7 separate regions of the Homo sapiens genome follow, and all the other regions are linked to region 1. Evidence: fine-mapped expression QTL. A gene starts in region 1. Each other region holds a variant in brackets. All regions are shown on one strand. Distances are between the middles of the regions.

What was found. PIP is the estimated chance that this variant, and not a neighbour inherited with it, causes the effect.
Region 2: its variant is fine-mapped to the expression of MFHAS1 in whole blood (TOPMed, PIP above 0.99). The same link has a PIP of 0.9 or more in blood mononuclear cells.
Region 3: its variant is fine-mapped to the expression of MFHAS1 in whole blood (TOPMed, PIP above 0.99). The same link has a PIP of 0.9 or more in blood mononuclear cells.
Region 4: its variant is fine-mapped to the expression of MFHAS1 in skeletal muscle (GTEx, PIP 0.96).
Region 5: its variant is fine-mapped to the expression of MFHAS1 in T cells (TOPMed, PIP above 0.99).
Region 6: its variant is fine-mapped to the expression of MFHAS1 in whole blood (TOPMed, PIP above 0.99).
Region 7: its variant is fine-mapped to the expression of MFHAS1 in whole blood (INTERVAL, PIP above 0.99).

The regions. Positions count from the first base shown.
Region 1 is chr8:8,891,336-8,895,535 of GRCh38, reverse strand. MFHAS1 (multifunctional ROCO family signaling regulator 1) reads left to right here and starts at 1,906. Exons shown (of 3, transcript NM_004225.3): 1 at 1,906-4,200. The coding sequence starts at 2,478. RefSeq lists silencers at 1,761-2,010, 2,021-2,300, 2,411-2,680 and enhancers at 2,525-3,485, 3,486-4,200.
Region 2 is chr8:8,852,747-8,856,978 of GRCh38, reverse strand. The region is part of intron 1 of MFHAS1 (multifunctional ROCO family signaling regulator 1); the gene reads left to right. Among named protein-coding and RNA genes, the nearest start is that of MFHAS1, 39 kb to the left of the region's middle. The variant G/A (reference allele first, on the strand shown) is at 1,775.
Region 3 is chr8:8,869,944-8,874,097 of GRCh38, reverse strand. The region is part of intron 1 of MFHAS1 (multifunctional ROCO family signaling regulator 1); the gene reads left to right. Among named protein-coding and RNA genes, the nearest start is that of MFHAS1, 22 kb to the left of the region's middle. The variant C/T (reference allele first, on the strand shown) is at 1,708.
Region 4 is chr8:9,218,244-9,222,475 of GRCh38, reverse strand. No RefSeq gene overlaps it. Among named protein-coding and RNA genes, the nearest start is that of PPP1R3B-DT, 69 kb to the right of the region's middle. The variant G/A (reference allele first, on the strand shown) is at 2,217.
Region 5 is chr8:8,776,008-8,780,193 of GRCh38, reverse strand. No RefSeq gene overlaps it. Among named protein-coding and RNA genes, the nearest start is that of CLDN23, 76 kb to the right of the region's middle. The variant C/T (reference allele first, on the strand shown) is at 2,073.
Region 6 is chr8:8,862,931-8,867,162 of GRCh38, reverse strand. The region is part of intron 1 of MFHAS1 (multifunctional ROCO family signaling regulator 1); the gene reads left to right. Among named protein-coding and RNA genes, the nearest start is that of MFHAS1, 29 kb to the left of the region's middle. The variant C/T (reference allele first, on the strand shown) is at 2,146.
Region 7 is chr8:8,808,318-8,812,549 of GRCh38, reverse strand. The region is part of intron 1 of MFHAS1 (multifunctional ROCO family signaling regulator 1); the gene reads left to right. Among named protein-coding and RNA genes, the nearest start is that of MFHAS1, 83 kb to the left of the region's middle. The variant C/G (reference allele first, on the strand shown) is at 1,738.

The DNA.
Region 1 (4,200 bases):
CTACTCTACTTTGATGGCTGATTGAGAAGTCACTTACTTTGAGCCCATTTCCTCCTCTGTGGGGGAAAAAAAGGGTCAGCCTAGATAACTCAGAATATTTGTTGTAAAATTGACTGTCTCTGGGAGGGAGTGTGGGTGGGGCTACCCTGAGCCATCTGAACTCTCGGAAGTCCTTCAGAGTGAACACAGATCAGCTCTTGCTGTTCACTTACTCACATTTCATCTGTGGTGTCAGAGCCTCAGGGACCCAGCAGAACTGGGGAACATCCTCCAGTTACAGCATGTACTACCTGCAGCCTGATAACCATCACTGGGGTGGATTTCCAGCCTCAGATGTTCAGGTGCTCTTTTTGGAAACACACACTTCTCACGTTACTGCACCAAATATGGGTCCCCAAATGACAGCCATAGCGCATGTCGGGGAGAGCTGCAGTGGGTCAAGTGATGCCTTTAACCAACTGAACGCAGTTTTCGGTCCCTGAAAACTATTTGCTTCCTTATCAATCAACCTGAAGGGAATGATGGAGGTGACACTGGGAGTCTTGGTAGGTTTCCAGACTTTCATAAGTTCGGGAGAAATTATTGACTTAGCATAGATGTGAGCTCAAAGAAACATTTCCTAACAGCAATAAAAATAAGCATTAGAGTTGAACAATGGACTGTGACTGTTTCCCAAAATAGCTGTTTTCTTGAGTCCGCAGAACAACAGGTACTGTATTAATGGGGATACAGTATTTGTTTCACAGCGTTGTTGTGAAGATAAACGGGATACCCCAGATAAACAGCTTGTGTCCCCCCCATCTTAACAACCCTCCTTTAGGCTGGCGGGCCACCTGCTCAAAAGCCTTCCCCAGGGGGGTTAAAACCGTCTTTTAGTAGTTCTGGTACGGGTGGGCTGGGGGAGATCCTCTAAAGCCAGTGCGACCTTGACCCCAGCCAATGTCCAGGCTCTTGACACATCCAGAGAATGAGTTCAAGGACAACTCAGAAAATAGTGACAATATGCAGATTTATTGCAAAGGGAAAAGTACACACCCAGGAAAAGGGATTGTGGAGAGGGTCACTCACAACGGGGCTTGGGGCTGCTACCTTTATGGGTTTCTTTAACCAAGGGGTGAAATATTCATGAAAATTCCTGGAAAAGTGTGGAGATTTTTCGGGACTGTGGTGCCACCCATTTTTACTTCAAATATGGGTGTCCCCGGAATTGTCATGGCACTGGTGTGACTTAGGATGTTAAAGAGCGTATAATGGAGGCCTAGGAGAAACCTAGGTCAAATCCAGGACCACGTCGGGTCCAGCCGGTCTTAGCCAGCTTGGTACACACCCTGGTTTTCAGGGTCTTATCAGCCCATAGCCTCCAGTCAAGTGAAACTGCTGCCTGGTATTTTTTATTCTCCTCTGACCAGCCTGCATTACTCCTGTCCCATGTTCAACACGAAATAGGGCCTCAGGAAATATTTACCAAATGAATGAATGGTTGCCTGTTCTAATTTTGTTTAACCACACTCTTGTCCTAAGCTTCTATGATGATACCCAGGGCCCCCGAGTTGTGCCAGTTCCACTACGGCGTGGATGCAAGGCGAGCGGCAGGGGAGCAGGTAAAGGATGAGTAAGGGAAGCCGGCGGATCCGACGCATTAGAGAACAAGAAAAAGAAATCCTTAGAGACTGGGGGCCAACAAAGAGCCAGGCGCGGGCGAACCCACCAGGGGGGCCCCGGAGCCCCACATCCGCCGCTGGGACGACCTCCCCGCCCAGCATGGTCCGGGGCGCGGACCCGGCCCCGCGCCAGGCGCCCCCGGCCCCGCACCCGGCGCCCTCCGCAGCTCCCGCCCCCGGGGCGGTGCCGGGAAAACGCGGCGCCTCCGCCGGTCACGTGGGGGCCGCTCCGGCGGGCGGCGCTGCCGCTTCCCAATCGCGCCCTCCCAGCGCCGGGGACGCGGCGCCCGCGCTCCCGCCCGAGCCCGGGGAAACGGAGACAAGGAGGCGCCGCCGCCCCCTCCCCGCGGCTGCGCCCCAGCCCTGCGCCCGCAGCATGCCCGCCGCCGGGCCGAGCGCCGCCCTCCCCCAGGAGCTCGAGGAGGCGACGCCGCTGCCGGCCGCGGGACCGCGGCTGCGAGGGTAGCGGGGCCGGAGCCGGGCCCCCCGAGGCGCCGCGCGGCGGGCGGAGAGGGAGGAGGAGCAGGCATCCTCCGCGGCGCGCGGGCGGCGGCCCTGCTGCCCGGCGCGCCCATGGCCCGGCCGCAGGGAGAATGCAAGCTGCTCTCCACGCGCTCGGCGTCCCCCGGAGCCGCTCGCGTCGCCGCCGCCCCCTAGCCGCCAGCGCTCGGCCGCTGGCTGCGCTAGGACCCGCGGCCGCCGGCCGCCGAGCGCGGGAGGGCAGGCAGGGGCAGGAGCCGGAGGGCCCGGGGCGCGGCGCGGCATGTAGCTGCGGGCTCCCGCGTCCGCGTGAGGCTGTCGGCCCGGGGCCCCGCCATGGCTGGGATGGACAGTGGCAACCTGAAGACCGCGAGGCTGTGGCGGGACGCCGCCCTGCGTGCCAGGAAGCTGCGGAGCAACCTGCGCCAGCTCACGCTTACCGCCGCCGGGGCCTGCCCCGGGGCCGGGGCCGACGCGCTCGAGTCCCCCGCCTCCCCCCAGCTCGTGCTGCCGGCCAACCTCGGGGACATTGAGGCACTGAACCTGGGGAACAACGGCCTGGAGGAGGTACCCGAGGGGCTGGGGTCGGCGCTGGGCAGCCTGCGCGTCCTGGTCCTGCGCAGGAACCGCTTCGCCCGGCTGCCCCCGGCGGTGGCCGAGCTCGGCCACCACCTCACCGAGCTGGACGTGAGCCACAACCGGCTGACCGCCCTGGGCGCGGAGGTGGTGAGTGCTCTGAGGGAGCTGCGGAAGCTCAACCTCAGCCACAACCAGCTGCCCGCCCTGCCCGCCCAGCTGGGCGCTCTCGCTCACCTGGAGGAGCTGGATGTCAGCTTTAACCGGCTGGCGCACCTGCCTGACTCCCTCTCCTGCCTCTCCCGCCTGCGCACCCTGGACGTGGATCACAACCAGCTCACTGCCTTCCCCCGGCAGCTGCTGCAGCTGGTGGCCCTGGAGGAGCTGGACGTGTCCAGCAACCGGCTGCGGGGCCTGCCTGAGGATATCAGTGCCCTGCGTGCCCTCAAGATCCTCTGGCTGAGTGGGGCCGAGCTTGGCACGCTGCCCGCCGGCTTCTGCGAGCTGGCCAGTTTGGAGAGCCTCATGCTAGACAACAACGGGCTGCAGGCTCTGCCCGCCCAGTTCAGCTGCCTGCAGCGGCTCAAAATGCTCAACCTCTCCTCCAACCTCTTCGAGGAGTTCCCTGCCGCGCTGCTGCCCCTGGCTGGTCTGGAGGAGCTCTACCTTAGTCGCAACCAGCTCACCTCGGTGCCATCCCTTATCTCGGGCCTGGGCCGGCTTCTCACCTTGTGGCTGGATAATAACCGCATCCGCTACCTGCCGGACTCCATCGTGGAGCTGACCGGCCTGGAGGAGCTCGTGCTGCAGGGGAACCAGATCGCGGTGCTGCCCGACCACTTTGGCCAGCTCTCCCGGGTGGGTTTGTGGAAGATCAAAGACAACCCACTGATCCAGCCCCCCTACGAGGTCTGCATGAAGGGGATCCCCTACATCGCAGCCTACCAGAAGGAACTGGCTCATTCCCAGCCGGCGGTGCAGCCCCGGCTCAAGCTGCTCCTGATGGGGCATAAGGCTGCAGGAAAGACTTTGCTGCGCCACTGCCTCACCGAGGAGAGAGTGGAGGGATGCCCAGGAGGAGGGGACAAGGAGAAGTGCTACCCACCGTCACCTCCCCCTGTGAGCAAGGGCATCGAGGTGACCAGCTGGACGGCCGATGCCTCCCGGGGCCTGCGGTTCATCGTGTATGACTTAGCTGGGGATGAAAGTTATGAGGTGATCCAGCCCTTCTTCCTGTCCCCAGGGGCCCTATACGTGCTGGTGGTCAACTTGGCCACCTATGAGCCTCGCCACTTTCCTACCACCGTGGGCTCCTTCTTGCATCGGGTCGGGGCGAGAGTGCCCCACGCGGTGGTGTGCATCGTGGGCACCCACGCAGACCTGTGCGGAGAGCGTGAGCTGGAGGAGAAATGTCTGGACATTCACCGCCAGATCGCCCTGCAGGAGAAGCACGACGCGGAGGGACTGAGCCGCTTGGCCAAGG
Region 2 (4,232 bases), 39 kb after region 1:
CTTTCCTGATGTGAAAGTGTCAGGTTTTGAGCCAGTTTGAAAGATGAGAACTAGAATATATTTCTCTTTCTGATCTAGAGAATCCTAGTGGCTTCTAGGGCAGTGTATAAACAAAGCCCTGTGGCTGCAAGGTTTCCCGTGTGCAGCAATAAACTGATACATGCCGGTGACAGGAATCTGGCTCATGGGCTTGAAACCATCCATTAACTCATTAATTGACCAGACATCATGGGGGTCTGCTGAGTGCCATGGGGATGCTCTGTGCTGGGAAAGATGCAAAGATGAATAGGCTAGGAATAAAAGACCAATTTCATTTTTTAATGTGTCAGTATTTTTAATATTGAAATGTAGGACCTTGCAAGTAAAATACTATTAAGCTAATTTCCCAATTTAGAGTCTTTGAATTATTGTCTTGGATATTAAATATATTCAGTGTTTCCCACCAGTGGATCCCAAAGCCTCACCTGATATGTTTGGCAATTGTCAGGCCCTCTTTTTTATACTCCAGAGGAATTCCAACAGGAAATATGTACACACCATCCCTTACCTCCCTTGCTTCTTTTCTTTTCTGCGTCCTACTTTGTTTGATCTTGAAATACGGGGAAGTATCTTCTGGGCAAGTGCTGTTTCTGTGCCAGGCTGTGCAGGTCATGCTTGCCCCAGTGCCATGAGAAAGACACTCGAGTGAGCTCGGGACAGATCTCTCCAGCACTGTCCTGGCTTGACCCCACCTGACCAGTGACTCTTGTACCATGCCCAGCTCCTTTGGCTGCTGGAGCAAAAAGATCTAGGGAGTTTGTTTTCCAAATAAGGGCCCCAGATCTTACTTTCAGAGCTGTGCATGTGAGGAGTTCATGGGGAATCCCTCATCTCAGCAGACATGGGGAAGACCGTCTTCTAAACTGTAGTTCTGAAACAGGTAAACATTCAGTCCCCGCTCGCTTTCAAAGCACAAAAGTGAGGAGGCTTATTTGGCATTGAAATAACTGAGCATCTTTTCTCATCTGTGTTTCTGAATCTGTTATGGCCAGTGTTTTATAACCCCCTTCACATTACCTTGTCAGTAACTTGCTTCAGATGAAAATAACGGCAGAAAGCATAATTTTTTGTTTTTTTCTTTTTTGAGACGGCGTCTCACTCTGTTGCCGAAGCTGGAGTGCAGTGGCGTGATCTCGGCTCACTGCAACCTCAGCCTCCCAGGTTCAAGTGCTTCTCCTGTCTCAGCCTCCCAAGTAGCTGGGATTACAGGTGCCTGCCACCATGCCTGGCTAAATTTTGTATTTTTAGTAGAGAGTAGGTTTTGCCATGTTGGCCAGGCTGGTCTTGAACTTCTGACCTCAAGTAATCCACCCGCCTCGGCCTACCAAAGCGCCAGGATTACAGGTGTGAGCCACCGTGCCTGGCTGAAAACACTGTAGCGAGTTCATGAATCAGGATTAAAGAATCTGTGGGATATATAGAATGATAGAATAAATTCTATAACGTTCATTTTCATTGTGCAGGATGGAGACATTAGTGTGCATCTCAGTTAGGATTTAATTGCTCCTTCCCTGTGTTCTTGAAAGCGCTTGGAAAGCGCCTCCAATCCTCCATTGTATGATTCTAGTTCAGGTCTGGCTCTTTCACCAGACAATGAGCTCCTGTGGTAAGATGCCATGTCTTAATTCATCTGTTTTCCGCTTGTCCTAATACAATGTTAAGATTGCCAGATAAAATACAGGATGTCGGCTGAGTGTGGTGGCTCACGCCTGTGATCCCAGCACTTTGGGAGGCC[G/A]AGGCGGGTGGATCCCCTGAGCCCAGGAGTTCGAGACCAGCCTGGGCGACATGGCGAGACCTCTCTCAACAAGAAATAAAAAATAATTTTGGTATGCTGGGGGTGGGGGCCCTAGAACCAAACCCCCCATATATACTGAGGGAGGACCACGACTGTGGTCCCAGCTTCTTGACAGGCTGAGATGGGAGAATCACTTGAGCCCAGGAGATGGAGGCTGCAGTGAGCTGTGATAGTATCACTGCACTCCAGCGTGGGGTATAGAGTGAGATCCTGTATCAAAAACAAAGAAACAAACAAACAAAACCCCAAAAACCCAAAACCAAAAAAACAGGATAGCCAGTTAAATTTGAATTTCAGATAAACAATAAAGTGTTGCTTATGGGTGGGTCTCATGTATACATCTATTCTTACATCTGAATTTCACGTAAGCAACGAATAATTTTTAGTGTAAATATGTTCCATGTGATGTTCTGATTTAGTCATAATACATATTTTTTTCTTTCTTCCTTTTTTTTTTTTTGAGACAAAGTCCCCCTCTGTCATCCAGGCTGGAGTGCAGTGGTGCAATCTTGGCTCACTGCAACCTCCACCTCCAAGGTTCAAGCAATTCTCATACCTCGGCCTCCTGAGTTGCTGGGACTAGAGGCATGCACCACCTCACCTGGCTAATTTTTTTTTTTTTTTGAGACAGAGTCTCGCTCTGTTGCCCAGGCTGGAGTGCAGTGGTGCGATCTCAGCTCACTGCAAGTACGGCCTCCCGGGTTCACTCCATTATCCTGCCTCAGCCTCCGGAGTAGCTGGGACTGTAGGCGCCCACCACCAAGCCTGGCTGATTTTTTGTATTTTTAGTAGAGACGGGGTTTCACTGTGTTAGCCAGGATGGTCTTGATCTCCTGACCTCTTCTTGACCTCCCAAAGTGCTGGGATTACAGGCGTGAGCCACTGCACCTGGCCTAATTTTTATGTTTTTAGTAGACACGGGGTTTCACCATGTTGGCCAGGCTGGTCTTGAACTCCTGACCTCAAGTCATCCTGCCACCTTGGCCTCCTAGAGTGCTGGGATTACAGCTGTGAGCCACCACACCCAGCGTATATTTTTGTTTTGTAAATTGGGCAACCTTATACAATGCCCATGACTTACAAAGGATTTTTTGCTCCTAAATCAGTGTAATTTAATAATGTGAACACAACTAAGACAAATCAAGGTGTTCATGGAGTTGGTTGGTGTCTTTTATGGAATGCAACATGGGAATTGGAAATAGTAATTATCCACCTTCACCAGTGTGTTAGTGAGTATGGACCATTTAACCTACAACAGTTGGATAACCTTGACAATAGAAATAGGTAGCTAAGCCAGGGGTGGTGGCTCCTAGTACTTTGGGAGGCCGAAGTAGGGGGATCACTTGAGGTCAGGAGTTCGAGACTAGCCTGCCCAACATAGTGAAACCCTGTCTCTACTAAAAACACAAAATTTGCCAGGAGTGGTGGCGCATAGCTGTAATCTCAGCTACTCAGGAGGCTGAGACAGGAGAATCGCTTGAACCCTGGAGGCGGAGTTTGCAGTGAGCTGAGATTGCGCCATTGCACTCCAGCCTGGGCGACAGAACAAGACTCCATCTCAAATATATATACGTAGCTAGGACCTGACCTAATGGTTGTACCCACACTGTTTGCCTTGTACGTGCCAGGCACTAGCAATCTAAGTTGTGTGTGGTTTTTTTTTTTTTTTTTTTTTTTTAAGAATGAGCAGACACCTTGTGCGATTGTCCAGGTTAACTAACAAAAATAGTTGTCTGGGTTTATGGAACTGTAATTACGAGTCAGATCCTGGTTCCCTTCCGCTTTCTCTGCTATTTCTGGTTGCTCCTTTTTATTCCCAAAAGGTAGAAAGGGGCAGGTAGGACAGGAGCTTGCCGCCTGTTGAACTAGAGGGAGTAGCTTCCGAGCAAACTGTGACAAAATGGGGTATTTTAAGCCTCCATTTTTTTTGGGGGGTATGTGAGTGTGTGTGTGAGTCGGTGTATATGTACACAGTGCAAGTAAATAAGCCTGAGTGGGTGGCAAGAGCCTTGTTTGTGTAGTAGGAGAAATGGAGCCTGCAGGGGCATAGTCGGGGTCTTGAGAGCAGACACACGGACTGAGCCAGGCAGTTGCTGCTGAGAACAGAATCAGGACCTCCTGCTTCCTTTGGGTGATATTGGGTTTTTTAGGCCACCTTCCCAGCCACAAAGTAGGACTCTGAAATACATCCGGGTATAAATGTTCTTATGGAAATGCAATCACTTCTGACTTTAAGTATGTAGAAGTGAGGGCTCATACCCTTCTCCCAGAATGTAAATTTGACTCATCGGGGCTAACAACAATGATAGCCTAATATAAGAAACTGTTTACCGGACTCTGTTCTGATGTCAGCCAAGCTAGAGCTTTGCATGGTGGGATGCTTTCTCTTGGCTGTGCC
Region 3 (4,154 bases), 21 kb after region 1:
AAAGTGGTGGGACCTAAAAAAAGCCTCGAGGGTTATGAAGGCTTCGCTTTGTGATTTGAAACAAGGTAATTTTTTTAAATTGGCTTTGGTGATGTGTATTGGAACACCATTGTTTTCAGCATAATTACGCATTTCACAGCTTAATTCAGCCATTACACGTGATGCAGTGTTTAGACATAGCAATAATTACAAATTGTACATGTTTACAGATAGATATACCGCTGATCAAAATAAAACAGTGGCAGCAAGAATGATGTTCTGTCCATGTAAGAAATCAATGAAATATAATTAAGAACGAACTGTATCTCATTGACTCAAAACATTGCATCTGCCTTTCTGTCCCATCTGTTTTCTAAACAAAAATCTTCCCGCGCTGCGTGGTTGTTTTTATTTGTATCCTAGAACCATCCTCTCGAGTTCCACACCGTTGTATTTTCTACACCTAAGCTTGGTGTGTTCTGCACAGGAAATGTTTCTTGGATGTTTTATCCTCATACCAAGTGGGAATTTAAAATTTAAGAGATTACCCACACTCTTTGCCTTTCTGTACATGTGATGAAGAAAGAGTGGGTGTAACCCAGCACTCTAAAATGTGTTTGACCTGTAAAAAAAAAAAAAAAAAGTAAGCAATTAAATCCTGTTATAGTTGCTTCTGTGTTTAAAACATACTTAATGACGTATATATTTATTTCAAGCTAACAAAGTCCCCAGTCAGGTTCTTGGGAGTTTTTTTCACAGGACTCATTGAAGTGTTTGGTCTTTAAAATCCTTCATTTCATGCTAACTGCCAAGTCAATGCAGACAGTATGGCCGAACAGAGCTGGTCACATTTTCCCTGAACATGCTATTAAAAAATATATTCACTGGGATTCTCTTGACTCATGGCATAGCTGAGGTGACTTTGATTCCGGAGGGCTATTGCTTATGAATTGCATGTGGAAGAACTAAAAATAGAAATGTGAATTTTCCAAAAGAACACTATGATACCAAAAATGGCTCACTGGCTTGCCTAGAGCTGGGCTGTTTTGTGCCCAAGGTACAGTAATAAGAACTGGGATGCAAAGCCCTGTAGGGTGCATCTGTCCCCTTCCCTGACACCCCTCACTCCCAGATGGCTCACGAGTGGCACTGCCCGGTTGTCTCCGTCTCACTCTTGCACGATGTTCTGCTGCCTGTCTGGGATGGAGCAGGTGTTCTTTTGAATGTATTTGTTAAGCCTCTGAAATATATGCATTTCCCCCTCCCCAAGAAAAACACACATGTGCATGCTCTGTGCTTTTCCCTGGTTACTGTATTGTTCCCATCTTTTTTTTTATTTTTATTTTTTCCCTTGGAATAGGGAATATCCACTCATTTTCTATTTAGTCCCTTCAGGAATTTGCCTTAGGGGCTGTTGGGCCAGGCCTCACTGCAGCCAGCCAGAGCTTATCAGCTGTGTGTTAACCTCTCCCAGACACTTCTTGAATGCTGTTCATGCATCCGAGCCTATGCATCTGAGCCTCCTCTGTGTAATGTGGTGCGGCATTAAAAGCTTACCCAAATAGCAGGGATGATTGCATCTTGTTGATTACCAGGGCTGATAACATTTTCTTGCTTAGCTAAAAAGAAAAGCCAGATGACTGTTTCCAGGAAGTGATAAACTGCCATGCATCCGGCCCCAGGTGGTCCGCATGAAGGAAGCTGCAAGGTTGGAATCCTCCTGCCGTC[C/T]CCTTTTACAGTTCATAAATCTTCTGATTTATGGGGCCATTTGTGATTGCAGACACATTTATTCATGGGGGGATTTCCATCGAGATCATAACCCACTGTAAAGCAGGAGGAAGAATCAGGAATTAGAACGGTGTACATTCCTCTTTGTTAGAAAAGAATCCCGATTCTTTGGTCATAGACAAATATTTGCTTTTGAAGAATCTGGTGGTGTGTCGCTGGCTTTGTTCATATCCGTGCACAGTCACATGCTCCCTTGCCTCCCATGGACCCAGAAGCTTATGTTACACAGATCGTTTTATAATGCTTGCCATCCGGGCATGTTTATGCAAAGTGTGAATAACTTTTTGCCTTAGCCTCCTCTTCCTTCCTTCTCCCTCCTTTGATTTAGCTCATTTCTGGAATGGGGCAGATTTTCATCTCAGGGAGTTGATACGGTTTCCTAGGTAGGGTGACAGAACAAGTGTCACCTTAGCTGTAGCTAGAGATGAATATTGCCATGCAGCTTACTTGCTTTATATTAAACCAGCATTAGAGAAAGAGGCCTTGCATCTTTTATCAGCAGTATGTTAACCTCTCCCAGGCACTTCTTGAATGCCATTCATACATCTGAGCCCATGCATCTGAGCCTTGGATGTAATTAAATCAGTGGATTAGGAAGTCGGGGGCCTGGACCTCTGGGAAGCCACTTGGCCTCCCTGGGCCTCAATTTCGTCTGTAAATAGGTAAAAATAATTCTAACAGTTCCCAAGCATTTACACCTGCTATCAGAGTCTCCTTAGATGTTGTGAGGGGGAAATGAATGAATAGATGTCAAGTCCCCAAGTAGTTTTTTCTTTGTTTGCGTGTTTGTGATCACTCTGTTGCCCAGGCTGGAGTGCAGTGGAGTGATCTTGGCTCACTGCAACCTCCACCTCCCTGGTTCAAATGATTCTTGTGCCTCATTGTCATGAGTAGCAGGGATTACAGGCATGTGCCACCATGCCCAGCTAATTTTTGTATTTTTAGTAGAAACTGGGTTTCACCAAGTTGGCGAGGGTGGTCTCAAACTCCCGACCTCAAGTGATCCAGCCCCCTCGGCCTCCCAGAGTGCTGGGATTACAGGTGTGAGCCATCACGCCCAGCTGCAAGTAGTTTTTACCATATAATAAGGGCTCAGTAAACATTAGCTCTGATTACCATCATCCTGGTTTACAGATGAGGAGTGGAGACAGAGGAGGGCTAAGTCATATGGCCAGGGGCACACAGCATGTAGCAGAGCCCAGGTTGTCCTCAGGAACCTATGGTCTTTGCTGTCACCCTGTGCTGCTTCTCAGGAAGGCAATAGCTTGTCACCCATTAAAAATGGGTAGTTATTTGAATGAAAAGCAGAATAACCCCCGGAGGCAGAGGTTGCAATGAGCTGAGATTGCACCATTGCACTCCAGCCTGGGCAACAGAGTGACGCTCCTGTCACCAAAAAAAGAAAAAAAGTAAGGACTCCTTGTGTGAAATGCACATGGTTGCTTTTAACATTGCAGTACTGGACTATAAACATTTGCTGGGGATTGGCAGTGACCAGCCATGGGGCAGAGCATGGGGCATGGGAGGGGAGCAAGGCCTTGACCCCGGGAAGCTGCAGTCCAGGGAAGCAGTGTGGACAGTAAGCAGAGATTTGCAGGGCTGTGTAATAAATTCCAGGAGAAAAAGATCTCCAGGGGCTCGGAGAGGCCTGCGGGATGGAATCTGTCTTGATCCACGTGTGTGTGTGTGGGGTGGTTAGATGGATGGGAGGTCTCCAGGGGAGGTGAGTCGTAGGGACTTTCTGTAAAACCAGGGCCCCTGACGTGTGATGGGCTGTACAAATTACTGGCAGCCCAACTATTCATTTATCAATGCACGTCTGTAAATATTTTTGTTTTCTTTTTAAACCTTTTTTGTTTTCCTGGGAGACAGAGTCTTGCTCTGTCATTTAGGCTGGAGTGAGGTGGCGCGATTTCAGCTTACCACAGCCTCAACTTCCTGGGCTCAAGCTATCCTTCCACTGCAGCCTCCCGAGTTAGCTGAGACTGTAGGTGCGTGCCACCATGTCTGGCTAATTTTTTTTTTTTTTTTTTTTTTTTTGTAGAGACAGGGTCTCACTATGTTGCCTAGGCTGGTCTTGAACTCCTGTGCTTAAGTGATCTGTGCATCTTGTCCTCCCGAAGTGCTGGGATTACAGGTTGAACCACTGTACATATCCCGTGTAAATAACTTTTAGCCTATCTATTCACTAGCTAACACTTTTTCACCAGAAGGAACTTCTGGCATCTGGGTGTTAAGCTAAATTAAAGCCTGATGGTTTTTTTCAGAGGGTGAGAGGAAAATACTGAAGGGTCAAATGGGGAAATGTCAAATTTCCATTTTGTCAGCACACTCAGGGCAGCAGTGTGGAAGATGGATTTCAATGGAGTAAGAATGGAGTCAGAGGG
Region 4 (4,232 bases), 330 kb before region 1:
TGTCCAGAAATCCAAACTATAAGATGCTCCATGTCATTGGATGTGTAAAGAGAGGAAAAAGAATGTCATTTTCTTGAATTCTTGGTTGAATGTGATACTTTGTGATACGCTCATTGCAGTGAAGGCTGAGCTCTCTGAGGACAGTTTGAGTTATAATTGAGAGTCATTAAATGGCTTACAAGGAGGTGGGTGCAGTTATCTATAGTAGGACTAACGTTTGCTAGTAGGGTGTGCAGGACTGGGCCAGAGCTGAACTGATTAGAGCAGTAGAGAAGAGGACCAGAGCTGCTGCGAGCCAGTCTTCCTTGCTTGACCCCAAGTCACAGTTAGACAAATATTGAGAGCATATCCATTTGAAGGAACCTAAAATTATTAACTAATGACTATTATTTATTAACTGCCTAGGGTACCCGTAGTGTCCTCATCAGGCTATATCTAGAGAAGTGAGCTGAATTTTAAACATAACATTTCAAGATTGACTTTGGCAAATGTTAGCTTCTGAGGAGTGAGGGAGAAGGCTGAGAGGGATGAGGGAACTGTTGAGATCCAGAGCTGGAGTAAGGAGTGAGTCTGCCATGAAGGTGTCCAGGGATCCAAACTATAAGATGTTCAATATCACTGGATGTGTAAGGAGAGGGAGAAAATGTCATTTACCAGAATTCTTGGTTCAATGTGGTACCTCCTGATATGCTCATTGCAGTGATGAGTATATGGTCAATTGCCTCCCATGTGAGTTTGAAGAACTACAGACGTGCAACCTAAGAGAGAAGACTAAGAATATTCAGAAGATTCTCATGTAAATGGTGGAGCAGATTTATCCTAATCTCTGATTCTCTGGACATCAACTGGGTATCCAACAATTCAGTTTAATTCTGACACTACCTGGAGTTAGCCTCAGATCCCACAAGTTAAAGGGGCTCAGTCCCACACACTGCTCTCCCTTAAGACATCAGTTATAGGTACTGGGTTCCCAGGTCACCTGAATTTGTCTGACTTTGCTACAAGTTCCAGGGTTTGCAGCATGCCACCCGCCACCTGCCCTCGCCCCACGCCACATTTCCTTAATTTGCTAGAACAACTCAGAACTCAGGAAAATGCCATACTTGGAACTATATTTTATTATAAAGGATGGGAATGAACAGCCAGATGAAGAGGTACATAAGATGAGGTCCAAAAATGTCCTGAGCACAAGAGCCTCTGCCTCTTTGGAGTTGAGGTATGCCTCCCTCCCGGCACATGGATGTGTTCACCAACACAGAAGCTCTCATTCAGATTTTACGAAGGTTTCATTACGTTGGCTTGATGGATTAACTCATTGGCCATTGGTGATTGAATTCAATCTCCACTGCCTCTTTCCTCCCCATAGGTTGGGGACAAGAGCTGAAATTTCTAACCCTCAAATAATGGCGTCATGTTTGACCAGCCCCCATCCTGAAGCTATCTGGGAGTCCCACTCTGGGGGTTCATCTCATTAGCCTGAACTCAGGTGTGATAGAAAGGGGCTCTCATTACAAATAACAAAAGACACTCCTATCACTCAGGAAGAAGTTCCAAGGGTTTTTGTTTTGTTTTGTTTTGTTTTTAGAAGCTCTGTGCTAGGAACTAGGGACAAAGACTAGATATATTTCTTATTATGCCACATCTGTATTATCCCTAGCATGGATTACTAGTGGAAGTTACAAGAAGGCAAGTTTTAATTAAACATGAGAAAGGATTCCCTCAAAATTAGAGAGTCCCATCAGTTGAAGGTTGGTGTTGTCCCCTGGGTACTAAGACAATGAGCACCCTGCTCTCCAGATACAGCAGAGGGAGGCTAAGCTTATTAGGGTTGTAGAGATTCTCATTTAAAAAAAAAAAAAAAAAAGTTGAATCCAAATACCTTTAAGATTTTACCAGCTGCGTATGGTGGCTCATGCCTGTAAACTTAGCACTTTGGGAGGCCAAGGCAGGTGGACTGTTTGAGCCCAGGAGTTCAAGACCACCTTGGGCAACATGGCAAAAACTCGTCTCTACAAAAAATACAAAAATCAGCCAGGCATGGTTGTGCATGCCTGTAGTCCCAGCTACCTGGGAGACAGAGGTGGGAGAGTTGCTTGAGCCTGGGAGGTTGAGGCTGCAGTGAGCCAAGATCGCACCACTACACTCACCCTGGGCAACAGAATGAGACCCTATCTCAAAACATAAAAAAAATGTTTAGAAACCAACTTACCAACTTC[G/A]ATATTCTAAACTTAAAAAGAAAAATCAAAGATTTAGGATTTATATTTTAAAAGAACAATTCTTTTAAAATGTCAAAGTAAATACAGATCACATGGAGAAATTTCACGTTTTTCAGGTATCTTGCCAAATATCAAAATGACTTCTGCAGTCGTCCCCGGGCAGACAGAGGAGAAAAACACCCAGGGAATCCACATTTCGGCTCAACACCATTGCTATTGCTTCACCAGCACAGTCCCCACACCCGACTTTGCAAACTTGTGCACGCATTCCTCTCAAAGAAAGAGGTAGATCTGGGGGAAGTGTTAGGGTTGACCCAGAAAATCTGACTAATAGGAAAAAAAAAAGGTGTGTAGAGAATCTTCCTCAAAGTGCAAACTTACTGTTCAATGCCTCTTTGGAAAACCCTTTAAATTAATTTGGTCAGAAGCTATAATCATTGCTGTTTGTGTAGCCACAGATTCCTCTCCAAGAATGCACATAATTACAATTGGAAAAATAAAAAATCAGGTTTCCTTCTAAATTTGTTGCTAAATACATTGGATTATTGGGCCCACAAGTCACCAATCCTGAATCAGCTCCATTTTCAGAGTACAGAAGTGGTGAGATTGTTCTTACAGAGGCAGGCTGACAACAGTATTGTTACTATTGGCATCCAGCACAGAAAGTACACATTAATATGGCTAGCCTAGAAGAATGACTTATTGACTAAACAAAAGACCTCTATATTTCCAACCCTAGTTGTCACTGCTCTGATCTCATCTTACTCAACTTCTAAATGGCATTTGATCTAGCTGACCACATCCCATTTCTTGAATTATTAGGTGCTGTAGATTTCCTTAACACCACATTCTTTGTGATAGTTGTATTCTTGTTCCCAAAGATTCACGGTGTATCCCTGTGAGAGAATTACCCATCCCCTCAACCACCAGATTGATCATGGAAAGTGAATGCAAGTGACAGATGCTGCATTCCGGGAGAATATTTTAGGGTCCTTGCCTGGTTCTACCATCTCTCTTTGGCCTCCCCTGCAGGCTGCTCTGATGGGCGTGTATCTTTCAGTCTGGGTCTGGAAGGAAGATGTAGAATAGACTGACAGTAGGACTGCAGCCACCATGTAACTTGAGTGAGAAATAGACCTTTTTTCTCAGAAGGCACTGAGCTACAGGGACTGTTTGTTGCCTTGCATAATAAAATTTGAATAATGCACACCCCCTCCCCAGTATTCTCTAACTTCAGTGTTCTTTTAACAGTGGAAGTGGTGAGCAGTGACCTGATGCAGAGCGTATGTCAGAGGGGAACCAGAGAATGGGCTGATAGGTTGAGTAAAAAATATACAAGATAGGATCAATGTCTGACTTCTAGATTTTTAAATTTAGGCAGCTGGCACATAGAAATGCCATTTACTGAAATGGAGAAGAGTGAGGCAGGAAAAAATTTTGGCAGGGGGACATCAAAAGTTTTGGTTGGGACACATTATACTTGAGCTATATATGAGTCTAGACTAGAAGTAATCAAACTTTTTCTTTTGGGATCATAGAGTCCCTGTTATACACTCTTCTTTGATTTTTTCCCTATCTTTTAAAAGTATAAAGACCTTTCTTAGCTTTTGGGCCATACGGAAATGGATGCCAGGCCACAGTTGGGCTGTAGTTTGTCAAACACTAATTTGGAGCTTGGTGGAAAAAGCAGGGATTGAAATATGCATTTGGGCACAGAGATTGACCTAAAATCCCAGGACTAGTCATGAGCTCATGCAGGCAGAGAGATGAGCTAGAGAGGAAGACAGAGAAAGAGTGAGTGTTCTTTACTGAACTCACTCTTTCTCTGTCTGAGTTTTCAAGGTCTTTAAAATCCTGGTCCAGGCTGCCATCATCTCTTGTCTGGAACCACAAGATTCACTTGGGCTCCTGCTCCCCCACCCCGTTTATTCTTATTTATGACAGTAGCTTGATTTGTCAGAGATGACTCTGAGACCCCATGACTTGCTGCTAAATGACCTTCAGTGGCTTCCCGTT
Region 5 (4,186 bases), 120 kb after region 1:
AGTAGAGGAAAAAAACAATTATTCATTGTCTCCAGCTTAGTAAATCTACATTTTACACAAGATAAGCTCAGTAAATCTACATTTTACACAAGATAAAGTTAACGTTTAAAGAGGGAGTAGAGGAAATGAGGCTGTGACATGAGGTTGTGAAATTACAGCTGTCTGGGAACAGAAGGAACAGCAGTTTTTGCGTGACTCAGTTCCCATGCTGAAGTTTCCCTTTGCCATCCTGAGTTTGGGATCCTGAGATTCTATTTTCCTTTCACTCTTTGAACACAGAGTGCCTGACACATGGTGGCAGCTTCTGTGCCAAATTCAAATGCCCAGGGCTTCCTTTGCCCATGGCTGCTGGTGCCCCCCAGTGGAACTGGCAGTGACAAAGGCCATCACCTGGTGGAAATGCTGCTCCTGCTGCCAAGTCAGAAGCGGGTGTGGAAGGACTGGAAGGGGTGTTAGAAAGCAGATGACCTTCTGAAGTGATCTGTGTTCGACGGCATGAGAAATTTCACCAGGTAACAGAAACCCTATTTGAATATTTGTAACCTCTTTCAGGGAAGCAATACTTTCTTCATCTTTAAAAACTAGGAATATTTTTTAATGAAATGAATTTTATTCTAAATGCTGAGAAGGATTCAGACTGCTTAATGGAACATTTGCGTCTCCTGAGGTACAAATACAGGCTCCCCTTTAAAATGATTCTGAGATCCAATAAGAAATGCTGCATTAAAGAAAGCTTAAAAGAGGCTGGGCATAGTGGCTCATGCCTGTAACTCCACCACTTTGGAAGGCCAAGGAAGGAGGATTGCTTGAAGTCAAGAGTTTGAGACCAAACTGGGCAACATAGTGAGATCCCCATCTCTACCAAAAAGAATTTTTTTTTAAATCAGCCAGGCGTGGTGGCATACTTGTAGTCCCAGCTACTCAGGAAGCTGAGGTGGGAGGATTGCTTGACCTCAGGAGTTTGAGGCCAGTCTGAGCAACACAGTGAGACCTCATTTCTACAAAAAAAAAAAAAAAAAAAAAAAAAAGGCCGGTGTGGTGGCACATGCCCCAGCTACTCAGGAGGCTGAAGCAAGAGGCTCACTTGACCCCAGTAGGTCGAGGCTGCAGTGAGCCATGATCACACCACTGCACTCCAGCCTGGGCAACAGAATGAGACCCTGTCTCTAAAGAAGAAAAAGAAAGCTTAAGACAGTGTTTGCTGCAGGACTCTGAGAACCATTTAGATACCAATACAAAAGGTGAATCCCCAAAAGCTGAGAGAATGTGCAGCATTTCCATGTGTATCTGAGCGTGGAAGGAAGACGCCTCTCCCCAGAGCTGTCTGGACATCCCCCCAGACCAGTTTTTCCAAAGTAGGGCCATGTACTCCAATGCAGTCTCAGGCGTTTGTAATTGAGGCACAGATGGCATCAAATCATAGAGAATCACTTGTCTTTTGCATTATGTAGGAGGCAGCTAGGTGCACTGACTCCAGACTGCCTCCATTTGAATCCTGGCTATCCTGAGCGTCTCAAGGTCAGATAACCAGATCCACACATATTTGTGTCTTTCCACAATGTCAGACTTTTGTTGATGCTATTTCAGTCACAGAAGCCACGAGCTACCTAGAATTACCAAGGAGGCGACTCTCCTTACTATTACCCATTCAGTCAGTAGTCAGAGGTGTGAGGCTCAAACCGTTCCACAAGTCAGTCAGCATTGCAAACCATACATGGTGTGGTATGCTTAATCGATATATAAATGTTATAGATTAAACATTCCACATCAAATAAAGTAAATTTTACATCAAGAGAGGCCAGGTGCAGTGAATCATATCTGTAATGCTAGCACTTTGGGAGGCCGAGGCGGGCAGGTCGCTTGAGGTGACGGGTTAGAGAGCAGCCTGGCCAACGTAGTAAAACCCTATCTCTACTAAAAATACAAAAATTAGCCAGGTGTGGTGGTGTGCATCTGTAATCCCAGCTCCTTTGGAGGCTGAAGCTGGAGAATTGCTTGAACCTGAGAGCCAGAGGTTGCAGTGAGCCGAGATGGTGCCACTGCCCTCCAGCCTGGGTGGCAGAGTGAGACTC[C/T]GTCTCAAAAAAAAAAAAATCAAGAGAAAAGGGATGAGGGAAAGAGTTAACCAGTCCAGGAAGAGCAATATAGACAAAAAGAATTTCCTGCAAGGTCTTGCAAGGAAGAGTCTTTTATGTGGGCACAGACTTCAGAGGTGGATGCCAGGTGCTTATCACAAGTGACAGCAAGACAGTGTCTGTTAAGATGGGCGTTTTGAGCTGGCGAAGTCCTGCTCTCCAGAGTCGTTTGGTGAGGCCTGATAGTGGAAAAGTGCGCCTGGTTTTGTCCTTATCTGGCTGGGTGCAGTGTCTATTGATTAGGTGAACATCTGGTCCCTGTCGGCATGATGGCTTTTAAAATGTAAGATGGAGTCTTTTTCTAAGATGGAGTTGCTTATGTTAATGCTGCTTGATCTGCTGCCTCTGCCATTTATTCTTTCTTGTCCCTCAGAGTATTAGTCCGTTCTCACACTGCTATAAAGAAATACTTGGCTGGGCACAGTGGCTTACGGCTGTAATCCCAGCACTTTGGGAGGTCAAGGTGGGTGGATTGCCTGAGGTCAGGAGTTCAAGACCAGCCTGGCCAACATGGTGAAACCCCGTCTCTACAAAAATACAAAAATTAGCTGGGCATGATGGTAGGTAGCTGTGATCCCAGCTACTCAGGAGGCTGAGGTGGGGGAATCGCTGGAACCTGGGAGGCAGAGGTTGCAGTGAGCTGGGATCATGCCACTGCACTCCAGTGTGGGTGACAGAGCGAGACTCCATCTGAAAAAAAAAAAAAAGAAAGATGAAAAGAAATACTTAAGACTGGGTAATTTATAAAGAAAAGTTTAATTGGCTCATAGTTTTGCAGGCTGTACAGGAAGCACGATGGCTTCTGAGACCTCATGAAACTTTCAATCATGGCAGAAGGTGAAAGGGAACCAGGCACGTCTTAGGGCTGGAGTAGGAAGAAGTGGGTGGGGCAGGGAGGGGTGGGGGTGGCATGGGGCTACATACCTAAACAGCCAGATCTCGAAATAACTCACTCACTATCGCAAGAACAGCACCAAAGGGGAAATCCACCCCCATGATCCAGTCACCACCCACCAGAACCCACCTCCAACCTTGGGTACTACAATTTGACATGAGATTTGAGTGGGGACATGGACCCACTATCACTCAGTTTCCTCTTGTGTAAAATGGGGAAACAATCTACCTCATACAATTGTTATAAATGTTAAATGAGATACCATGTATAAAGTGCTTATGACAGCACTAATCAAATACAATTGTTCTATTGCATAGCTCTCTCTTTTTTTTTTTTTGAGACGGAGTCTCGCTCTGTCTCCCAGGCCGGAGTGCAGTGGCGTGGTCTCAGCTCACTGTGAGCTCCGCCTCTCGGGTTCATGCCATTCTCCTGCCTCAGCCTCCGGAGTAGCTGGGACTACAAGCACCCGCCATCACACCTTGCTAATTTTTTGTACTTTCAGTAGAGCCGGGGTTTCACCGTGTTAGCCAGGATGGTCTCGACCTCCTGACCTCGTGATCCAGCCACCTCCGCCTCCCAAAGTGTTGGGATTACAGGCATGAGCCGCTGCACCTGGCCGCATAGCTCTCTTTATACAGAGAAAGCAGGCCTCAAGTTCAGAGCCTTTAACAGTGTGTAGCTAGAATGTTTAATTTTTGTTTTCATTATATTTATTAATTGGCTTTTTGCATGAGTGATAAAACATTTGTTTTAAAAATGAATGCATTTAGAAAGAAATACTTAAAAGTGTATTAGAAAAAGTTTTAATAAGTGCAGTTGATACACAGATGTAGAAAAAATGTGAAGATATGGTAAAAATTATGACAGTGGTATGTGAAAGTCTGCATAATATAATCAAACTAGACAGTCCGGGACTCCTGGTCTAATGTGATCCCACTGATTAATGCAACCCGTGGGAGAGACCAGGTGATTTGCCTGAGCAAGTCTGAAGCACCATAGAAGCTTTTAAAGATGACTAGGTGCAGTGGCTCATGCCTGTGGGAGAACTTTGGGAGGCCGATGTGGGTGGATCGTTTAAGCCCAGGAGTTCGAGACCAGTCTAGGCAACATGGCAAAAACCCATATCTAATAAAAATACAAAAATTAGCCAGGAACAGTG
Region 6 (4,232 bases), 28 kb after region 1:
GAGCTCAGTCCATCTCCTTTATTATCTTGTTTCCTTTAATCTATATTAATGCACCTTAGCAGTATCAGAAATTTTGTTAATATATTATGTGTAGCTGAACTGTAAGCTAAAAATAGATCATACCAACCCATCTCTCTTTCTCTTTCTTTTTTTTCCCACTGTCACCTTCACATTTATTCTTAGTGACTTGCAAATGATGGGATTACACCTTAAAAATTGTCTTGTATCAGATATGTATTTCCCCATTCTCTAAAGAAGGCTAATTATGCAAGTACACGGTTCTTTCCTGATTCATGAATTCATATCACGATTTTATTTTCAGATTCCTCAAGGTAATTGCTTGTTAGACTGGTTCACAGGATGAGAGATATCCAAGTAGTCATATGAACCGTTTCCGTCCCATTCATGCCATTCTGTCTTCTGCAGAAAATAAGTGAGTCAATCACTGTTTATGAGAATGTGTAAGAGACTGGGGAGAGAGAAGGGACTCAGTGGCCATTTTGTATCACGGATCCTTTTTACTAGGGATAAGAGTGATCCTTACTGGCTGACTGCAGTGGCTCATGCCTGTAATCCCAAAACTTTGAGAGGTTGAGGTGGGAGGATCGCTTGAGCCCAGGAGTTGAAGACCAGCCTGGGCAACATGGCAAAACCCCATTTCTACAAAAAATAAAAAATTAGCTGGGCGTGGTGGTGCATGCCTGTAGTTGCAGCCGTTGGGGAGGCTGAGGTGGGAGGATTGTTTGAGCCAGGGCGGCAGAGGCTACGGTGAGCTGAGATTACGCCACCGTACTCCAGCCTAGAGGACAGTAAGACCCTGTCTCAAAAAAGAAAAAAAAAAAAACAAAAAAGAAGTGATCCTTGCTAAGTTGCCATAGATCCCTGTTCTAGGTTCCCATTCAGCGTCAGAGTTTTATCGTCTGATAAAACAGGGATCAGTTAGAGAGCTTTTCGCAGGCAAAATGACACTGATTTTACTGAACCAATGGTAAAGAGAAGTGCTCCTAGGTTCCCAGGCCCTGTTCTTCTGTATTCTTCCTGCTTAGAAAAAGAGAATAATAAAAGCACTTCAGCTAGGAGTAGAGCTTTCTAAAAATTGGCCAGCCAAATCCCCAGGGAAACCAGGATTTCAGCTTCTCTGTCATCACCTCTGTTTGAGGTTGGCATGCTTTGGCACTTTTTCCGTGGCTGCACTGTCAGGAGAGTAGGCCAAGCCGCCTGAACAAGGAGAGGTGTGGAGGACAGTCATTCTGTAGCTGCAGTAATCCCTGCCCTAGTTTTTCTGCCTTCCTGAGAGAAATAATAGACACCACTTGTTTTACATCAACCAGGCTTCTGACCTTTTTGGACTATGAAAATTAAATTCTTCTAAGACACTAAGTGTTAAATTTGGGACCCAAAAATAGTTGGACTAAGTGGCTGCCTGGTTTAATAGTGGCAACTCAGTTCAGATAATAATTACTAGAAATTTCAAAGAAGTTATAGGAGCCTCACCTTGAGTAGACTAGGATTTGACAGTTGAGTGATATACAATTGTACTTAACAGCCATTTTCTAAAATGAAGTTTTCTGGACAGTAATTCATGTCAAGTGTCATCTGTTGCTTTTCTATGTGATTCCACTTCACCAGGGCTGTCCTGGGAGGGGTCCTTGGTTGTGTTTAGCTTTCATCGAGTTAGGGTAGTAACTCCTAGTCTCCTTCCTCTCCATCCTCTGTACCTTGTGTCTCTTTTCCCATTTCTGATTTTTGTATCCAGGAGTTTCTGATTTTTGCCTTTTGAGTTTTGTTTCTTAAACTAAGTGGAGCTAGGTTTTTATGGGGAAATAATTTCTCAGCCTGTCATCTTGACAGTGAAACATTTCTTTTTTTTTTTTTTTTTTTTTTTTGAGATGGAGTCTCACTCTGTCATCCAGGGTTGAGTGCAGTGGCACAATCTTGGCTTACTGCAACCTCCAGCTCCTGGGTTCGAGCGATTCTCCTGCCTCGGCCTCCTGAGTGACTGGGATTACAGGTGCATGCCACCGTGCCCAGCTAACTTTTTGTATTTTTAGTAGAAATGGGGTTTCACCATGTTGGCCAGGCTGGTCTTGAACTGCTGACCTCAAGTGATCCACCCACCTTGCCCTCCTCAAGTGCTGGGATTAC[C/T]GGCATGAGCCACCAGACCTGGCCTGAAACATGTTTTTGGTTTGTTTTTTAATCTAGGTGGAAACTAGATACCCTTTCTAGTAACTAATATGTGGTTCATACCTAAAGCCAAAAGAAATCTCAAGTAATTTTTTGGATGAGACAATTTCGGCACCATGTTATATAACTTTATGATATCATCTTATCTGAGTCCTCTCTCTCTCCCTCTCTCCTTCCCTTTCCTTTTTTCCCTAGTGCCTGTAGGTGTGAGTTTAAAGATAAAATGACTGCCAAGTGACCCCAAGTTCAAGGACTTTTATCCTGGCATGCAACTGGAAAATTCAGTTTACATGATACATTTCAAAAGTGTCTGGTGGGTAGCTGGTACAAATGATAGGAAGAGAGTAGCTAATTTTATGCTCATTGTGGTTCTGTAAGATGATGTAAATATATGAGGATTTTAGGAGAAATAAAAAGTGATCTCACTGAAACAGTTATTTGTAGATTGCATTTTGACTTGTCTGAAACACATCAAGGTTAACATAAGAATATTTAGGATATGAATTTGGTCCAAGGAACATTAAAAATATTTTTACTTGGTGATTCTGATAGGAAGACATTGTTTCTACTAATGTGGGAGGGTGGGCAAAGAGGAGGAGGAGTCGGGCAGGGCCATTTTGTTGCTTGGTGTGAATGGCATCCTTGAATCGTGCAGTGGGCGGCCCTCATGGCCAGTAGCAGCAGATTTGGTTGAGCATAGGGGCAGAAAATGGCTTTGTTTTTTTAACTTACCCTTCTGTGTTTATGTTACCAGAACACCAGAGATTTGGTTTAGGTCCTGCTGCTTGCCGCACAGAAAGCCAATCACTGCTGAGACAAGTGTTGCCAGGGAAGAAGGCTTTAATCGGGTACTGCAGCCATGGAGATGGGAGCTCAGTCTCAAATCCATCTCCCTGACCAACTAAAATTGGGGGCTTATATAGTGGGAAGGCAATGTAACTACATGCCGGTAAACAGGAATTAGGAAGGTATAAGGAAGAGGAGTTGGTCAACAGGAAGCTGGTGGTCACTGAGGCAGCCATAATGGGTGAAGGGTCTGGTGTCTCCTTGTCCAAATGCAGTGATCTGGTGAGTTTCAGCTCCTTGATATCTGGGAGCCCTGATGGTTGGTTTTCTGAGAAAGGAATTCAGATAAAACAAATGCAACTTTCTTAAGTTTTAAGACAGGGTGGGTCAATTTCTAAGCTCATTAGAAACTGCATATTAATAGATTAGTTCTGTGAGATGATGGGGTGGGTTTCAGTTACAGGTAAGGGCCAGACTCTTAGTGAAAACAGGCCATGGTCTGGGTTAAGGACCAGTATGTTAGGGAAATGATTCTCTGAGGAAGTCCAAATAGGTAGGAATCAGATGGTCAAAACAGAGGTTAGAAACATTTTAATGATATGGTCTGGAAAAATCTAAGGACTAGAGACCACGGGTGCAAGGGGTTATGGCCAGTGGAACAAGAAAAGATCATACGTGGTAATAAATATAGGTAACAGTCCATTCTGGATGAGGTCAACTGGGCAGGAATTCTTTATGCTCCATCTAGGCAGGAAATACATGGAGGCCTTTGAAGTCCCACTGGCATGTGTGCAAGGAGCCACTGTTAATTTACACAGGAAAAAGGAATGGAGGGAGTAACAGCATCAGTTTGAGGTCCTGTGATATATCCATTGGGGGTGAATTGTCCCACAGTTATTAAATTATTTAAAAATCAGTACTGTATTCTAAGTTACACTGCCTGATTTCAGTGCTTACTTTCCGGCTATAGTAATTAAGACAGTGTAGTATTGGCGTAAGTATAAACAGATAGATTGATGGAACAGAATAGACCCACACATACATGCCCAATTGATTATGGACAAAGGTACAAATATAATTCAGTGAGGAAAGAATATTTTCAAGTGGTGCCAAAACAATCAGATAATTGTATTAATAAAAATGAACCTTGAGTCATTCCTTGTACTATATACACAAATTAACTTGAAATGGGTAATCGATCTAAATGTAAGTGCTAAAAATATACAGTCTTACCAAGGAAGCATAGGAGAAACTCTTAGTGA
Region 7 (4,232 bases), 83 kb after region 1:
CAAAGGACAGTGATCCTGAGCTATGAGAAATGAAGGAGGCAAGCCCTGTCATTGCCCCAGCTTACTGTCTTGAGAGTTTCCAGGCTGTGGTGCCAGGAGGGTGGCCTAGATAGCCGACCCAGAGGAGAGAATTGCAGAAAGAAAGATCTCCAGAGATGTGCCCACCACCCTGGGACCCAGCAGCGTACTGACCAGCCCGTGTAAGTAACCAAGACTGGAGGACAAAAAGGGGGATGCTAAGATCTTACGCCGGCTTCAGTCTCCCCCTACCCCACACCCCTGAACCACTAAATGATTCTTCGTATCTCTGCCCTTTCCCCCTCAAAGGAAGCCATTTGCAACTACGATTCAGAAGAGGACATTTTGCACTACACTTACGGGCTTCTCCGAGCCATGTAATCCTCAAAATTGAGAAAATATTCTAAGAGGTTGGCATTGGAGTCGCCGCACATGGAACTTGACTTTGTTGTGGTTTTCTCTTTAGTTTGAAAAAGATCCAGTAATCTGGTAAGACAGCAAAGCAGGGTGACCACTTCCTGGAGTGCTTCTGGTTTTGGGGTTTTTTGTTTGCCCTTGGATGGCATGCGGAGAAGGTAGTACTGCCCAGGGAAGTCTGGAAGCTTCCTAGGTGGTGACTTGTGTACCCTGTGGAAGAAGAGGGTGTGGACTCTGGCCCCCGCAGCCTAACCCTGTGCCCCACCAGTGTCGGATTCAGAACCACACGCTTGAGGGCACTTGAGAGACCTCCGTGTTTATGCCCCAACTTATGGATTCGGGGATGGATGAGTTTCGTTCTTTAACATATATCTAGGGCCTGCCGTGTGCCTGACATTGTTCTGGATGCTTGGGATCCCACAGTGAGTAAGGAAAATCCCACTCTTGTGGAGCTTACGTCCCTGCAGAGGAGACGCAGCATCAGCTAGTATGCGTCAGGTGGACGTTAGTTACCCAAAGGAGAATAACCCTGGCCTTGGCCAGGCATGGCGGCTCACGCCGGTAATCCCAGCACTTTAGGAGGCTGAAGTGGGAGGATCACTTGAGACCATGAGTCTGAGACCAGGCTGGGCAACATGGCGAGACCTCATCTCTACAAAAAATAAAAATAAAAAAATGAGGTATGATGGTGTGTGCCTGTGGTCCCATTTACTTGGGATGCTGAGACTGCAGTGAGCTATGATTGCGCCACTGTACTCCAGCCTGGGTGACAGCGCAAGACCCTATCTCAAAAAAAAAAAAATTTTTATTCTGGTTTGCAATTATAATTTTTCAGAGGTTGAAGAGGCTTGGCAGTGCTGGGTTTAAATTAGTTGTGCAATTTAGTGCTTTTCCCGTCATCATAGATGCTGTGGGTTTCAAATGGCCTCAAGTCCCGGCTGGATTTTATTCTGCGGATGACACTTGGGTAGGGGAGTAGATAAAGAAAAGCTGGTGTTGAGAGAGGATTCCAGCTGGAATCCTCTCCCTGTAGTGCTGTGGGAGATGTTTCTGCCTGCGCGAGATATTATTCATGAGCAAAAGGAGAAAGTTGAGCCATTTCAAGGTTCCTTCTGGCCTTGAGGTGCTGTGGGTCCGATTGCAAGCCTGTGGGTTTTCTCCTCTCTCCCAGGACTCTTCAGGGAGGCCTCAGCTCTACCAGACCTCCCAGTCCCAACCTTCACTCCTTCTCCTTCCTCCCCTTCCTTGGAGAAAAATGAATCTGCAGAAATGTTAGGAGACAAGAAGCAAGTACACTTGACC[C/G]TTGAACAACTCGGGGTTTAGGGGCACTGACCAGCCCCCTCCCATGGAATCACATCCACATATAACATTTGACTCCTTAACTACTGATAGCCTATTGTTGACTGGAAGCCTTAACGGATAACATCAGTAGTTCATCAGCATGTATTTCGTATGTTTTATGTATTATATACTGTGCTCTTACGATAAACTAAGCTAGGGGAAAGAAAATGTTTAGAAAATCATAGGAAGAGAAAATGTATTTACTGTTCAGTGGAAGTGGATTGTCATAAAGATCTTCATCATCGTCTTCGTATTGAGTGAGCTGAGGAGGAGGAAGAGGAGGGGTTGGACTTGCTCTCTCAGGAGGTGGCAGAAGTGGAAGAAAATTTCCTGTAAATGGACCTGCATGGTTCAAACCTTTGTTGTTCAGGAGTTGACTGTATACGCCTTCTGATCATTTGTTTTTTCCCAAGACGGTCTTGCTTTGCCGCCCATACTGGAGTACAGTGGCATGATCTAGGCTCACTGCAACCTCCACCTCCCAGGTTCAAGCGATTCTCCTGCCTCAGCCTCCTGAGTAGTTGAGATTACAGGTGCCCACCACCATGCCTGGCTAATTTTTGTATTTTTAGTAGGATGAGGTTTTACCATGTCGGCCAGGCTGGTCTCGAACTTCTGGTCTCAAGCAATCTGCCCGCCTCGGCCTCCCAAAGTGATGGGATTACAGGCGCGAGCCACTGCGCCCGGCCTGGCTTCTGATCATTATTAAGGACTTCACATGATTCCCCTTAGTACTTCAAAGTCAGGTAGATTTTGATAAGGTCCTTGGGCGCTAGTTTTATAATTTCAGGTCATAAGGGTTCGTCCTATTTTCTCTTGCAAGGAAAATGAATGTTGGGGAGAGAACGTTGTCGTCTGAATGCTTTTATGCCGTCTGCAGTAACCTCTCTGAGTCTGGAACCATTTTCCAGTAAGAAGTAGGTGACAGGCTATCAAAATAAAGAGTAACCTTTTGAAAGCACTTCAGTGCAGCACTGTGGGCTTTTTATAATCTTGACTTGTGTTTTGTGAGAGGAGAGGGCTGAGCTAGGTTTGTGCTCTGCTCCTCCCCCTCCCCCTCTCCCCAACTGTCTTTGATCTGTGAAGCTTGTCTCATCCTTAGCCAAGTCTGCTGGAACTTTATCCAGAGCAGGAAAAGGGGAAATAGTTTTCCTTTCTTGGGTGGATTTGTATTTATATAAACCCTTAGCGAGCAAAATGGAGCCAAGTGGCACACGCGTCTGCAGGGAGGCGTGGTGGGACGAGTGAGTGGCGGGAAGAGGCGGCTTTGACTTGGGTCACATGGTGTCAGACCTTTTTAGGGTCAGTGAGGAGAGGATGGTGTAAGTCCTTGTGCACATTTTCTTAAGGACATACTTACATGTCGGGCCATTGTAGAGCAACAAAGGGCAGGGTGTGTGTGCATCTCACTGTATGTCTATATCACCAAGAGCAGCTGTCTCCAACCTTGTTCGGCACCACAGACTGGGGTTGGTGGGATGGTTTCATGATGATTCAAGTGCATTACATTTGTCGTGCACTTTATTTCTACTATTATTACATTGTAATAGATAATGAGATAATTATACAACTCACTATAATGTGGAATCAGTGGGAGCCCTGAGCTTGTTTTCCTGCAACTAGCTGGTCCCATCTGGTGGTGATGGGAGTGACAAATCATTAAGCATTAGATTCTTACAAGGAGCGCGCAACCTAGATCCCTCACATACAAGTTCACAGTAGGGTTTGCCCACTCTTATGAGAATCTCATGCTGCCCTGATCTGACAGGAGATGGAGCTCCGGTGGTAATTTGAGCAATGGGGAGTGGCTGTAAACAGATGAAGCTTTGCCTGCTCACCTACCACTCACCTCCCTCTGTGCTGCCCATGGACGCGTACCAGTCCATGGCCCTGGCGTTGGGCACCCTTGCTATAGAGTCATTCCTCCAACCCTTATTTGCGGGGGATGCTTTCCAAGTACCCTACTGGATCCTGAAACCACCAATGGCACCAAACCCAATTGCCATCAATTGGAAAACGTTTCCGGTCATATCTTTTGCCCACAAATGTAATGTCTTTTTCATCTTAACTAAGCACTTAGCAGGTGCTGTAACCATACCTTTTGCAGTTTGAGGTGTAGCAGCAAAACTAGCATGGATTTATTTTTCCTTTTTCACAGTTTCACAGAATATTCATTCTCACTGTAGATCTGGTAATTTCAGCATGCAATTTTTTTTCTTTCCTTATTAAGTCAAGACCTTTCAGCTTTTTACTAAAGCACTTAACAGCTTCTCTTTGGCAGATCCAAATCGCCAGCATCACTACTCTTACACTTTCGGGCCATTATGAAGTAAAATAAGGGTGACGTATTAAGCACTGCAACACTTTGACAGTGGATCTGATAACCGAGAAAGTGCCTAAGTGATGAGCAGGTGGGGAGCGTTTACAGCGTGGGGACACTGGGCAGAGGAGGGTTC